Homo sapiens: one gene and its partners. The protein of the gene in region 1 interacts with the protein of each later gene in a pairwise test. Each region holds a gene or a part of one and is shown in the gene's direction. Other genes may lie near its edges.

Region 1 (4,128 bases):
CTCCAGCTTTGCGGTCACCCTTTTCACCTGGGGCCTCTGCCTCAGCCTCCTGCCTCTCCTCTCCACAGCCCACTCCTTCTCCTGCCCACAGGCCTGCGGGCTTCCCCTCCCCAGGCAAGCTGGGGCCGTGTCGCAGCGCTTGGCCATCACGACTTTGCCATTGCCAATGCAATCTGGCTCACTGGCATGCACTGTGCTTACCTTAGCCTCAGGGTGTCCTGCATAGGTCCCCAGGAAGATAAACCCTGGGTGATGTGTCATTTTCCCCTTTCCGTTCCTTCCCACGCCCTTCCCCCCACCTCCCCGCGTAGGCAGCGCATCTAGTTGGCACTCCATAAATATCCAAAGTATTTACAAAATAACGTAGAAGTTCTATGCTGTTTAGTTAGATCTCTTAAGGTTGATAATGTACAAGGCAATTTGCATCAGGAGCAGACGAGATAGGGCCCGGCAGATATAAATTAAAAATGCAATTGCACGCATTCATTCAACGAGAACTCACTGAGCAACTACTATGTGCCAACATTATCCACTGCAGTGAATAAAAGACAAACAAACAAGCAAATAACAAAAAAAAAAACAAAAGAGCAAGAAAGTGGCCGGGTGCAGTGGCTCACCGCTGTAATCCCAGCACTTTGGAAGGTCGAGAAAGGAGGATCGCTTGAGGCCACGAGTTCAAGACCAGACTGGGCAACATCATAGTGAGACCTCGTCTCTACAAAAATTAAAAAATTAGTCGGGGGTGGTGCGCCCAGCTCTACTCGGGAGGCTGAGGTGGGAGGATCGCTTGAGCCCAGGAACTGTAGGCTGCAGTGAGCCAGGATCGCACAACTGCACCACAGCCTGGGCAGCAGAACGAGAAATAAATAAACAAATAAAAGCCAGAAAGTAAAAATAAAGTGTTAGATGGCGATTCGAGCTGAGGAGGAAATCAGGCAGGGGAAAGAATCTGAAAGCGAGGAGTGAGTGGCTGGCAAGGCTCCTTCGGAAGGTGGCAATAACAGTCATAGACCGGTCACATCAATTGGGTGTTTACTGCGGGCCAGTGTGTGCCACCAACCTCACACCCGAAAGCCACAAAGACTCACGCCACAACGCAACGAGGCAGGGGCTCCTCCTCCTCCCTTGGTATACGGAAAGAAGCGTAGGGAGCAGAGTTGGGATGCTAGTCAGTACCCCCCTGCACCTAGCCCTTGCCCCTCCGTCTGGCTTTCCCCACTCCCGCTCCGGCGGAGCTAAGGTTAACATTAGACGAGGCTGTGGCTACCGGAAAGAGCGCAGGCGCAGAGCGCGGAATGCGCCTGCGCAGAGCGCTGGGCGACGTGGCCAGTCGGGGCCCGGAAGTGGTCCCTGTAGAACCACTGTGGCACCGCTACTCCGTGCCGCGCCCGTCGAGCATTGCGTTGCTGCATTGCGCCCCACCGACTCCACTATGTTGAAGAAATTCGACAAGAAGGATGAGGAGTCAGGTGAGGGGGCCAGGCCTGGGTCTGAGGGAGGCCGGACCCCCACCCGCCGAGCTTTCCTTCTGGTTCTCTGTCCTGACCCGGAGGCTGAGGCCCAGTGAGGGGCAGGGGCTTGTGCCAGGGTCCACAGCTAGTCAGTGGCAGGCCTCGGAGAGCCCGAGCATGCGCGGCTGTCTCACTCTTGTAAGCTCGGACTGCAATTTTCTGGGTGACCTTGGGCGCGACAAACACCCCCCCCCCCAGGCCTCAATTTACCCATCTGTCAAAGGAGGGGACCATGCCGAATGTTCTCTTGTTACTTTCTTCGTCCAACCTCTTGGGATTCGCTGGGGCTACGTTGGTGCTGGCCAAACTGGGGTGTAACCTGCGGAGCCAGCGTCCTGTGACTGGGAACTCTGACCCCATCATTCATTTATTCAGCAAAGTATATTGAGCAGTTACTGTATGCCAGGTACTGTACGGTGTCCTGGATACTGCAACAGAGCAAGTGGGACACTCAGTGCCTGAGCTAGGAATATTAGAATGGTTGCACCCACGATGGAGGAGGCAGACATCAACCAGATAATCACACGTGTAATTATTTGCAAATGTGTCATCTGCTATGAAGGAACTAGTTACAACGAGATGGTGGTCCCTGGCACATAGGGACTTAGTTAATTACAAGTTATATAAATGAACACAAGACATGGCACCATGAGAAGCACAGGACTGTACCAGGGCTGCTGGGAGATTGTGAGTGGTTTGGGGTAGAGTGGAGCCCACCTGCTTGCAGGAGACTAGTAGGATCCCTAGACAGATTGTAGAGGCTTGATTGCCATTCCTGAGGAGTTTGAACTTTACTAGATTTCCTAGGAAGGGACATCTTCCCTTTACCTATGTCTGGGAGAGTTTTGAAGTTCAGAGTCACAACCTACCTTCTCCATTGTCCTTGACCGTAGGTGGAGGCTCCAACCCATTCCAGCACCTTGAGAAGAGTGCGGTACTCCAGGAGGCAAGTGACATTTGCTCCCCTCTAGCTTCCATCATAAATATTCACCACCAATGCAACTGAAATACCAACACATTCAAAGTGTTGTTTTAAAGAGCAACACGGGAGAAAACTTGTGCCTGGAAGTTTTCTGGAAGACAGGAAAACTTTGTTTCTGGAGAGAGTTAGTTATGCTTACTTCTTTTTTTTTTTTTTTTTTTTTTTTTTTCTGAGACAGAGTCTTGCTCTGTCGCTCAGGCTGGAGTGCAGTGGCGTGATCTCGGCTCACTGCAAGCTCCGCCTTCCAGGTTCACGCCATTCTCCTGCCTCAGCCTCCCAAGTAGCTGGGACTACAGACGCCCGCCACCACACCCGGCTAATTTTTTGTATTTTTAGTAGAGACGGGGTTTCACCGCGTTAGCCAGGACGGTCTTGATCTCCTGACCTCGTGATCCACCCGCCTCGGCCTCCCAAAGTGCTGGGATTACAGGCTTGAGCCACCGCGCCTGGCCTCTCTATTTAAACATTTAAAAAATTTCTCTATTTAAAGTTAATTCCAAAGCTAAGGAAACTGGTTTAAAACTATCACCTAAGCTAGACTGTGGCCATTATGCAGGTAGAGATTTTGCATGACTTGTTTATTTTTATTATATATATTTTTTATATATATATATATATGTATTTTTTTTTAGAAGGCGTCTCACTCTGTTGCTCAGGCTGGAGTGCAGTGGCACGATCTCGGCTCAACTGCAACCTCTGCCTCCTGGGTTCAAGCAATTTTTCTGTCTCAGCCTCCCAAGTAGCCGGGACTACAGGCGCACGCCACTATGCCTGGCTGATTTTTATATTTTTAGTAGAGATGAGGTTTCACGATGTTGGCCAGGCAGGAGAATGGTGTGAATCCTGACCTCTTGATCCTCCCGCCTCGGCCTCCCAAAGTGCTGGGATTATAAGCGTGAGCCACCGCGCCCGGCCACTTCTCTTTTTTTTTTTGAGATGGAGACTTGCTGGTGTCAGCCTGGGGTGGAGTGCAATGGCATGATCTTGGCTTGCTGCAACCTCCGCCTCCTGGGTTCCAGCAATTCTCCTGCCTCGGCCTCCCGAGTAGCTGAGATTACAGGTGCCCACCACCATGCCTGGCTAAGTTTTGTATTTTTAGTACAGACGGGGTTTCACCATGTTGGCCAGGCTGGTCTCGAACTGACCTCAGGTGATCCACCCGCCTCGGCCTCCCAAAGTGCTAGGATTACAGGTGTGAGCTACTGCGTCCAGCCGCTTCTTTCTTTATTGTTGTCGTTCATTGTTTCTGTTTCCAGTTAGCAGATGGTTGCTAAGTATCTGCTAGTCAATAGGTTAGCACATCCCTAACTAATATTTACACGAGAGTCTAAGAATAATTAGTAGTTGATTAAAGAAAAACAAACCCTTTCCTTATGAAAATAAGCTTGTTGCATACCCAGAAAGCCCTGTTTAGACAAGTCAGTTTACCCTGAGACTTCTCAGACATTGAATATACTTGAAGGGAAATGAACTAGGCTAGAAGGTAACATCTTTGGTCATTTCTTCTTAGGCCCGTGTATTTAATGAAACTCCCATCAACCCTCGGAAATGTGCCCACATCCTCACCAAGATTCTTTATCTCATAAACCAGGTAACAGGGTGAAGCTTGCGGGTAGGGAGAATGGTGCTGGGGGA
Region 2 (3,500 bases), on another chromosome or scaffold:
GAACATGCCAATTTCTATGGCTTCTCATGTGACAGAATATACTTACTAGGATGCAATTAAATACTCCTCAGAGTATGTAAACAATAAATGTAATCATTACATTATTTTTATATTGTTCTTTCTTATGCATAATAGTAAGACTGAAAATATAGTGTTATTTCTGAAATATGCATATTGTTTTGCTTTTGATGATTAAATAACATTGTCCAAAGTTTTAGGTTTTTTGAAATCTTATATTTTTTAACAAAATATCTAGCCTTTCCAAAACAAGACCTCAATAATTCGTTTAAGACCCAGAGTTGTTCCTCTCCACATAGATCTCTTAAAAAGGCAGAGGATTTATGACCTCAAGAGAAATCAGAGTATCCAAAGTTTGCTTTAATTCAATGTTTTAAAAATAAAATTCCTTAGATTTTATCAAAAATTGAGATTAGTTTGATTTTGAATCAGATGCCCTTTGCTCCCCACCCCAAAATGGCATTATGAGCAGACTAGGAATTGATAATAGAAAATTGAACATATGAAATATATCTTTACCTTGCTTTTTAACAAGGTATTCATGTCTATCGCCTTCATTTTTAAGTGCATCAATAAAATACATGGTAATTCTCTTAGTGAAATATACTATCTACACTATGTACACACTCCCCTGTCTGAGGTAGAGAAGTAGAGAATATTCACATTTTTGAAACGTCTATGCTATTTTTATTTAAATACGAGTTCTGGGCTTGATTTCATTTTGGAACACGGGTGTGTGCTTAAGTTGAACCTTTTTTTCCTCTTAAGTCAAAGTTCTTTTTTAGTTTCTTCTTTTATCTTTTTGGCTACTATCTCTCTCCTTCATCCTCCTGGTGTGAGTTGTTGAGTGAAGGTATTAATTCCATTATTTGAGGCTAAGTGACATTGTTCAATAATGCAGCAAAACAATGGTTCTACCCAAAATATCTTCAAGTGTAAAAGCAGTGGGCAAAAGAGAAAGTGCGCTTCTGCTGCTTTGAATGTTTAAGGCTGTGAAAGTTGATCACACAAATTGGGTCATTCTTGTTATACCCAACTAAAACAATCAAGAAGCCTGGGAGGAAAAGCATTCAAGAAACATCACATTGCTCCAAAAGTGTAATTTTCTACAAGTCCGCATGCTGAGGCTGCCTGTTGTAACCTGGGACCAATTTTTTCTGTAACTGCTGAAAAAACTTGCTGCAGCTCTAGGACTAATTTTGCCCACCACTGTCACTCACCAATTGAAGCTTACTAGCTCCCCAGAACCTTTCTAGTGCCAATGAACTTTCTCAAAGAGCAGCGTGTATCATTTCTCTTTTTCAGAACACCTCCAACCTCCTCTTTGTTCTTTGGGTATACCAAAGACCAACCAGCCTTGAATTTCAATTTTTCTTCCCACATAAAAGTTTTAATTTAGAAATGTATCTCTACATTTCTAACTTTGACAAAGCATAGATACCAGATAATTGATGAAACCTTGCTATTTTAACGATCACCATGGATTACTTCCCAGTGTCTTCAGATAACCCTCAACATTTGCCAACATTTGATGGACTTCAAAATGAGCATATCTTTTTTAAAAAAAATTATTCACACTGACAGCAAGTACATTGGTATACTCTATATTAAATTATACCACAGGGTTTACAAACAATTGGTGATGTCGGGCAGTGGTTTCCAAGGAACATACTTAACAAGACACTCACAAGGCCCTACAAACCTGCATTTTTAACAAGGGCCCTAGATGATTCTAGAAGAGTGTGGTTTGGAAAGCAATTTTTGCCTTTATTATGTGTCATTTTAAATATATTTAAAATTAAAGTTATAAGTCATAGAATTGAATAAAGATAATTTCCTTACAGAAAGTATTACTAGGTATCTAAATACAATATGGTTCAAAACAGGAAATTTAAAAAGATTATGTAAATTCTGTAGTTGTATTCCTAAAGACAGTAGCTGAAATTTTTTCCTACTTCTCCTTGTATCACTTCCCTTTTCCTTCACTTTCACTTCCCTGGAATTGTACTTCCCAATAAGCTATTAGCAGTGAAGGAAGCTTCGTCTCATGATCTGTTTTATAGAGCACTTCAGCTGGGACGAGTACGAAATGATAATCAGTTATATCAGCTATTCAACCCTACAGGTTTATTTAAAAAGAACTTGAATAAGCTTTTTAGGGAGAAAGAGGTCAGTCTCAGCCATTTCTGTTTCCTAATATAGCTTTTAAGTCTTTCCTTATTAGCAATGAGGGTCATTCCATTGTAATTTTTTGATAACCATTTTTCTTTCTGTGTGTCAAATGCAGATATAAGATACTGAACTGAGTCTATTTCACTGTTCGTAAAACAATCCCATTTGAAAAAAAAAAGTCTACAGCTATTCCAGGGATAGGGCCTAGTAGAGAGAGAATAAAAGGTATTTTCTTACTATGTCTCTATATCCTACCCTGTAGGTTCTCTTATTAAGCATACAGGCATATACCAAAATCCAGACGTTTTTCTCATTTATTTTATTGCCCTAACATATTCTGGGTTAATATAATATCATAATGAAAATTTGAGAAAAAATTGATTTTTTCAAAAGTGTTTAACATTTGTTATATTGGTAGTTTTTTTTCTTGTTTGTGGTAAAAATAAATAGAAGGTGCACTTCACACCTTCAAGTATGATTATATTTTGAAAACAAGTCATGAATACTCATAAAATGCAAATTTTAATGTTCTTTTTTTGTTACAGCCAAACTATATTAGGCACAGTTGTAAATTGGAGTTGAAATTTAATATTTCTTTATAGATAACAATGTTTTTAGAAATAGGTTTATGAAACAGTAAATATACAGGTATAGGGATAAAATTGTGTCTGATGGTCATATGAAGTGTTTGTTGTTATATTCTCCTTGGAATAGCTGCCAAATATTTTAGTATGCTTAAAATCTACGAATGTGATAGAGTCAACAAATTTAGATCACATATTCAGAAAAACATAGTTAGAGAACTAACTATTGAAATGAGCATACAGCAGTCTTCCTTTATCTACAGGGATACATTCTGAAACCCCCACTAGGACACCTGAAATTGCGGATAGTAGCAAACCCTACATATACTGTTTTTTCCAATGCTTATGTACCTATGAAAAAGTTTAATTTATAAACTAGGCACAGTAAGAGATTAACAACAATAACTAATAACAAAAGAGAACAATTATAATAATATACTGTAATAAAAGTTATGTGGGTATGGTCTCGCTTTCTCTTTCCCTCTCTCTCTGTCTCTAAATATCTTAGTATTTTGGGGTTGCAATTGGTGGTGGGCAACTGAAACCATGGAAAACAAAACCACGGATAAAAGGAGACTACTGTATATACTTTTTAAAACTGATGAAATATTAAACTCATGTTTCTTCTATATCCCACCCATTTCCCCCACCCAAACCTAGATAGATATCTTATTTGATCTGTAAACATTTAATTAATTTGTAAAAGTTAAGAACTTTTTGAAGTAA
Region 3 (3,500 bases), on another chromosome or scaffold:
AGGATCTAAGGTGGAAATTCAGCAAAGAATCACATAGTCTAAGTCTCGAGTTTAACAGTAAGATAATTTGAGATACTTTTGTAATTATTAAACACAAAGTAATGAGAGATTTTAAAACAAACAAATACACCTGAATTTATATATCAGAATAGGTATGGTGGTTCAAAATAGCTATCTAATAAAAACCACACTCCTATTCTAAACATTTGCCTTTGATCAAAATAATTTTGGGTCTCTTATTATGAAATTGCCTTTCTAAATAATACATAAATTTCTTCTCATAAGTATATATTAGCCACATTATTTTATTGTTATTGTTTTATATTCATAGCTTGCTTTAGATTAAAAATTATATTACCCAGACTGGTCTCTTGGACTTGCTTCCAAGTGACTTTTGACTGTATCACAAAATCAAATTCACTCTGAAAATATAAAGATTTTTCATCATAATTTCCTTTGTTAACAGCCAAGTGCTACCTAATTTTAGGTGTTTTCATTAAAAAAAAATGCATTGCAAACTTTAAAGACAATTCTTTTGTTTGTTTGTTTTTAAAAGACAGAGTCTCACTCTGTTGCCCAGGCTAGAGTGCAGTGACACAATCATAACTCACTGCAACCTCCACCTCCTGGGCTCAAGTGAGCCTTCCATCTTGCCTCACGAGTAGCTGGGTCTTCAGGTGTACAGGTGTGTACCACCATGCCTGGCTAACTTTTTTTTTTTTTAAGTTATATAGAGACAGTATCTCACTATGTTGCCCAGGCTGCTCTTGGAGCTCCTGGCCTCAAGTTATCCTCCCACTCAGTCTCCCAAAGTGCTGGGATTACAGGCGTAAGCCACCTCACCCTGTCAGCCTAAAGACAGTGCTTAATGAAGAGAAATATAAGTGCTTTGAGCAATGGAAGTATAATTAAAATTATACTATGAAAGATTTATAAAGATGACCATTTTGAATGGGACCACACTTATTTGGTTATATAAATTATGATACACTATTAAAAATTCATCATGATGATTTTGTATTTACATTTTATTTACATGTTTGCAATTTGTGAGGAAAGCTAAAATTATGGCTAAGCCATAAATATTTTTGCAGTTTGTTGAGGGTGTTTGTAAAAGTGTTGCCAAGGAAGACCAGTTGGCTACCCAAACAAGGGTTTAGTCTAGGTCTGATCAATACATACACATTATCTCAGGTTTGTCTATCAGAAAAACCTTAGGTTATCCAAATCAAAATAAAATAGATGCATAAAACAAAGGCCAATATGTGTTGAACAATTATATTGTGATATACAACTGCCAAGCATTCCCGATTACCATGACTCCATTTAGTCAGTCCATGGGCAAATGCCATCAATGAGGACAGCCCAGGGTTTCCATATTCTCTCTTGGCTTTACATCCTATAGGAATTGGAGGGGCCCACCTCTGGGATAGGAGCCCTTCTGTCTTGAACAATGTTGTCTGAACACTAACAAATGTTGACTTTCTACACCAGTCCCTCAATAGTCTTTTCTATTTATCCTTTTGCTGACCATGTTTTGTTATTACACAGTTGAGATTTTTCAGCTGGGAATCTGTGTTAATTTTGTATTAATTTTGATTAGCTTAACTCTCAGAGTTCTAAAAGTACCTCCTGTACCTGATATATGACAAAAATTATAATTACATTTATTTATATATAAAATATCTTTGTATATGTAAAATATCTTTGTATATATAATTATATAATTGTTTCTTTTAATTTTGCAAATTTTAAAAAGTTCTCCTTTGTTTTGAAGTTTATTCCTATAGTTTTTTATATGCTAGTTAAATTATTAATCACTTGATTCAAGTAATATTCTTATATACTTATAAGGAATAGTGTAGTTTTAATATTTAATTCCTTGCTAAAGAGAGAAGTGGAATCTATTTTTCTTAGCTACTTCATCAATATTTTATGTTTGATGTGACAGTCAAAATATCCCTCAGAGCTAACTGTTACACTAGGGAAATCACGGTTTTCCAGTTTTCCATTTATGTGTTATGGGAGGGAGTGGAACTTAGTGTAATAATATTCAATACATAAATGTTAACACTTGTTTAAAGGTCCTTGAGTGAGTACTGCTATAAAATGCATTATTATTGCTAGTGTCATTTCACAAGAGCCTATAATTTCAGTGTGATAGAGCTACAATATAAGTATAGTATTGCAAAACCATCAGGAAGGGTGTTAACTATTTAGCATGCAGTTATGTGTTGGTTGTCAAAACGTTAAAAACATCTCTGACTCAGCAGCAATTTTGGCAATTTTGATCCTGAGGCATCTGTGTAGGGCATCTTCCTGGAGAAAAACCTCTGAGATGCAATGAGGTCAAAAGGGGAAAACAGACTATGATAAAGATCAAGTTGTTTGGAGATCTTGTAGAAAGATTAATTTACAAATATGTCAAGTGCATTATCATGGAGGAAAACATTGCTATTTCTGTTGGTTCTCTTCAGAGCTCTAGAATCAATTTACCACATAGTTGTTTCAGTGTGAAATTAGCATTACAGAGTGGCTTTACGGCTTTACTGTAGGGCATTGTGTCAGCAAAGAGCTTAGGCTTCTTTTAGCAAGAAGCTTGTAAAAATTTAATTTACTCTTAGATTGCTTGATGTAGAGAATTACATTCCTACAGAGCTCTGAAAAATCTTTTTTCAGAGTTTTTCACAGCTGTATTCAAGTTGCAAGGCTTGTCAACTTTGCTATTTTTCTGTGCAGCTCTGTTAACTTATTATTATCTTTTGACATAAATTATGATTCCAAATTGTAAAGCTCTGGATGTCAGGGCCTTTTCTAATTTGTTTAGTATGATATTCAGACCATTTCAAGACTCTTCCGTGGAACAATTTAATAAAGATTTTTTTGTGATGTTAATGAGTTCATGGTGATCAACCCTAGAGACCTGTGTCTATTGTAGATCGATGACATTCAACAGTCCTGCAGTGCTGGCATCATTTTGATAAAAAGGGGTCAAAGCAAGTGGGACTGTGGGCAGATTTTTAATGCTTAGAACAATTATTCCATCGAAGTTTTCTTGTGTCCCTTCTGCCTTAGCCTTTGTAGGATAGCATGCTTGCTAATTTCTTGCTCATGGGGTAAGGAAATGAAGATTTTTGCTAGGTCCGTAGGATTATTAGGACTACTCAGGCCTGAAGCTATGCCTGGATATAGCCAGAAAACTCTCCCATAGCTTGCTCCAAGGAGCTGAGATACAGCAGTACTTCCTTTGTAGGTCATGATTCTGGGTAACCTGGAAGATGACCTCATTCATATTCTGTATTCTATGTGAGACGTTAAGAAGGTAGAGGTGGCCAAGAAGGAAATTGTTGCTGCCTTTATGGAACAAATTATCTGAAACCCAGCTTTCTCGAGGGCTTCATTGAAGTACTCAACTGGGGCACTTAACCCAGTCTAAGGCTGGTCAAGGAAGGCTTGCTGGGGGAAGTGTCTTTTGTATTCACACCTAAAGGAGGTTATTC
Region 4 (3,500 bases), about 84 Mb from region 1:
TCACTGCAGCCTCAGCCTCCCAGGCTCAAGTGATCCTCTCACCTCAGCCCCCAAAGCATCTGGGACTACAGGTGCACATCACCATGTCTGGCTGATTTTTTCTGTTTTTCAGTTTCGCCATGTTGCTGAAACTTGAACTCCTCGTCTTAAGTGATCCATGCACCCTGGCCTCCCAAAGTGCTGGAATTACTGGCATGAGCCACCATGCCTGGCCCAAAGAGAGTTTAGATGAAGTACTTAGTGTACCTCATAGGTACCTTCTTTGAGAAATGTTTTCTTTCCATGTCTTTTCCTTCACTGAGTTCTGGTAACAGTTTTTAAAGCCAAAAATGAAAAATTATTGTAACAGGGTTAGACACCAAATGTTTACATGATTTATGTATTCTGTCTCTTAGGATCAGTTTACAGTGCATTTACTTTCTCATGGACAAGAGGATGGAAAGCTAGAATGGTCAATCCATAGTACTGTTTGAACCACTCATTTTGTCACTTAGAAATGAAATCATTATGTACACCGTTATGTGACTCTTACTGACAGAGATACATTCTGAGAAATATGTTAGAAATATGTTAGGCAACTTCTTTGTACAAACATCAGAGTATAATTACACAAACCTAGATGGTACAGCCTACTACACACCTAGGCTATATGGAATAGCCAGTTGTTCCTAGGCTACAAACCTGTACAGCAGGTTACTGTACTGAATACTGTAGGCAGTTGCAACACAATGGTAAAGATTTGTGTATGTATACATACATAAACAAGAAAAGGTACAGTAAATATACGGTATTATAAGCTTATAGGACCACCATCATATGTGTAGTCTGTCGTTGACCAAAGCATTGTTACATGGCACATGGCTGTACTTTGTTTCTCCAACCAGTTTACACCTTAACATTTTCTTCTCTAGTCCTCCTCAGTACCTAACATAGAGCCTTGTGCAGAGCAGCTCCTCAGTGAATCAACTGAGTAAATGAAAGGAACTTTCCAGTATAGACCACGTACTAGCACTGCAAAAAGAACACAGTCTAGGGTAATTTGGAATGTATCGTTTTGAAGAAACACAGCTTAAAAGTCATTTCATGTATATTGTCTTCCCAGTGTCTCTGTGAGGTCATAGGTTGATAGGTATCCTGTCATTGTTGAAAACAGTCTCATAATTGCCCTTGGCCACAAAGTCAGATCATACAGCCAAGCCATGGTAGAGCTAGCCTTGGAATACGGCTGGTCCAGAGTCCAGTGATCTTTCCATTTCATTGCATTATCCATATGACCTTTTTTTCTCTTACCAGATTGCTCTCGCATTAGTCCTCAGACATGCCAGGTATTGAAATGAGTCACTTACAACCAAATATAGTTGACATGTCCATATTAATTTCCATATGTTTAATGTGGAAAACAGAATATTGATTTGCTCAGAATTTAAAATTCATACTTTTTAAACTTCCAGGCAGTTCTAAATATCCTGTTAGGCTCCATTTTTCTTTTTAAGCCATTTGTATAGGCATGGATAATGTCAGACAGTGATAAATTTGAAATTGCAAAATAATTAGACTGGAAATGTAATTTTTAAGAAGCTTATCTATCCCTGTATATAAGCTAAAATACCTTGGCAGTTCGGCGTAGGTGTCACATTTCCTTTGCAGGGAAATGACATCAAATGTGGTTTGGGCACTTCTTAGGCCCCTCAGACCTCAAGCTCATAATAACTTTCTAAAAGGTTCAGTGGAAAGTTAGAGGTGCAAAATTATTGGATACATTTAAAGCATTTTTTCTTCTTTTTTTTTCTTTTTCTTTTAAAAGGTCAGTTGAAACTAGGTGTAAGGCAGGGAATCCTTTAGTTACTGCATCAGGCTGCAGCATGCCTCTGAAGAGTACTGTTTCCTCAGGAAATTGCCATTTTTAAAAGAGTCTCATAACTGTGAGGTCATCAGTCAGGGCAGATATGATCCAACCTTGAAAACAGATGTAACCTAAGCTACCTTGTGATACAGACACATATAATCTGTTCAATATAATGAACATTCATATTATTCACAGAAGTCTCCCGGTGGAGGGAAGGGTGTAGGGCAGCTCAGATTATTCTCATGAGTTTTAGCACAGACAATATGGGGTTTGTATCCAAAGCATTAGTTGGCTGGGAGTTCAGGCTAGTTCAGGCTTACCTAGGCTCACGTGGCTAGCCTAGGTTAGTGCTAGGCTACATCAAATGACTTGGTATGCTTGTTTTAAGTGCGTATTCCAGGGCCCCACATTAGGCCTACTGAGTGAAAATCTCTGGGGATGAGCGGTGGAAATCTGCAAGTTTAACTAGCTATCCTGGTAGTTTTTATGCACTCTGAAATATTTTAGGGCTGGGCATACATAGCTGAGTTAGGACCAGAACATGCTGGTAGAAGAGAATTCTTTGGAAGATATGGGGCTCTGGTAGATTGTGCTGTGGATTAGAGCTTCAGATTAGGTGGAATTTGGACCTAGTCCTGTGAAGAAGTCTGGTTGAGAGAATGGGTTTTAGGGCATTCAGGGAATAGGATATAGGTGGGAACACAGAGTTTTGAGAAAGAGGATAGCATTAGAATGAGTCTTTCTAGAAACACCAACTGGTTTGGAATTGGGTTGTGCCCCTGGGGAGTCTGTGATGAACTTGAGCTATAGGAGAGGCAACCAGGGAGGGCTCAGTGAGGAGATACCCAAAGGGAGGATGAATGGGGGAGGTAGGAGCACCTTCTGCCTATGAGTGTAGTATGTGCAGGGGATCCTTCTTTACTAAGTTGTTTTCTTTTTGCTCACCAAACCTAGTAAAGTGTTGTGCCTCTGTCTTTTCAACCAGAGATGTATTAAATTTGATCATTAAGACCTTGATTTAATTCTTTTTTTTTTTTGAGATGGGGTCTCACTCTGTTGCCCAGGCTGGAGTGCAGTGGCGCAGTCTCGGCTCACCACAACCACCACCTCCCAGGTTCAAGTGATTCTTGTGCCTCAGCCTCCCTTGTAGCTGGGACTACAGGCATGCACCACCAGGCCCGGCTAATTTTTGTATTGTTAGTAGAGACAGAGTTTCACCATGTTGGCCAGGCTGGTCTTGATCTCCTGACCTCAAGTGATCCACCTGCCTCGGCCTCCCAAAGTGTTGGGATTACAGGCATGAGCCACTGCACCCAGCCAAATTCTTTACGTAAGATTTTTGAGGGAATATGTTCTTGCTACAGTTTTATGACATATCACTGTGGCTCCTATGCAAAATAGTGGTTTCATTATTTTTAAAAATTGTGGTAAAATAAAACATTAAATTTACCATCTCAACCATTTTTAAGTATACAGTTCAGGGGCAATAAGCACATTCATGTTGTACAACCGTTATCACCATCCATCACCAGAACCGTTTTCATCTTGCAAAAATAAACTCTGTACCCATTAAACAACTCCCCATTTCTGTATCCTCCCAGCCCCTGGCAACCACCGTTCTACTTTCTGTCTCTATAAATTTGACTTCTCTAGA

What was found. Proteins that work in one complex are often made in the same cells at the same time.
Region 2: the proteins of COPG1 (region 1) and SNCA interact in a two-hybrid assay, tested with the Homo sapiens proteins (one large-scale study listed by BioGRID).
Region 3: the proteins of COPG1 (region 1) and CFTR interact in binary tests that used the Homo sapiens proteins (3 or more experiments, as listed by UniProt).
Region 4: the proteins of COPG1 (region 1) and SACM1L interact in binary tests that used the Homo sapiens proteins (3 or more experiments, as listed by UniProt).

What each region holds. Positions count from the first base shown.
Region 1 is NC_000003.12:129,248,278-129,252,405, forward strand, and holds the start of COPG1 (coatomer subunit gamma-1), read left to right. Parts: upstream 1-1,328; 5' UTR 1,329-1,432; coding exon 1,433-1,469; intron 1,470-2,404; coding exon 2,405-2,457; intron 2,458-4,003; coding exon 4,004-4,084; intron 4,085-4,128. UniProt on the Homo sapiens protein: The coatomer is a cytosolic protein complex that binds to dilysine motifs and reversibly associates with Golgi non-clathrin-coated vesicles, which further mediate biosynthetic protein transport from the ER, via the Golgi up to the trans Golgi network.
Region 2 is NC_000004.12:89,732,662-89,736,161, reverse strand, and holds part of SNCA (alpha-synuclein), read left to right. Parts: intron 1-3,500. UniProt on the Homo sapiens protein: Neuronal protein that plays several roles in synaptic activity such as regulation of synaptic vesicle trafficking and subsequent neurotransmitter release.
Region 3 is NC_000007.14:117,483,025-117,486,524, forward strand, and holds part of CFTR (cystic fibrosis transmembrane conductance regulator), read left to right. Parts: intron 1-3,500. UniProt on the Homo sapiens protein: Epithelial ion channel that plays an important role in the regulation of epithelial ion and water transport and fluid homeostasis. Mediates the transport of chloride ions across the cell membrane.
Region 4 is NC_000003.12:45,692,396-45,695,895, forward strand, and holds part of SACM1L (phosphatidylinositol-3-phosphatase SAC1), read left to right. Parts: intron 1-3,500.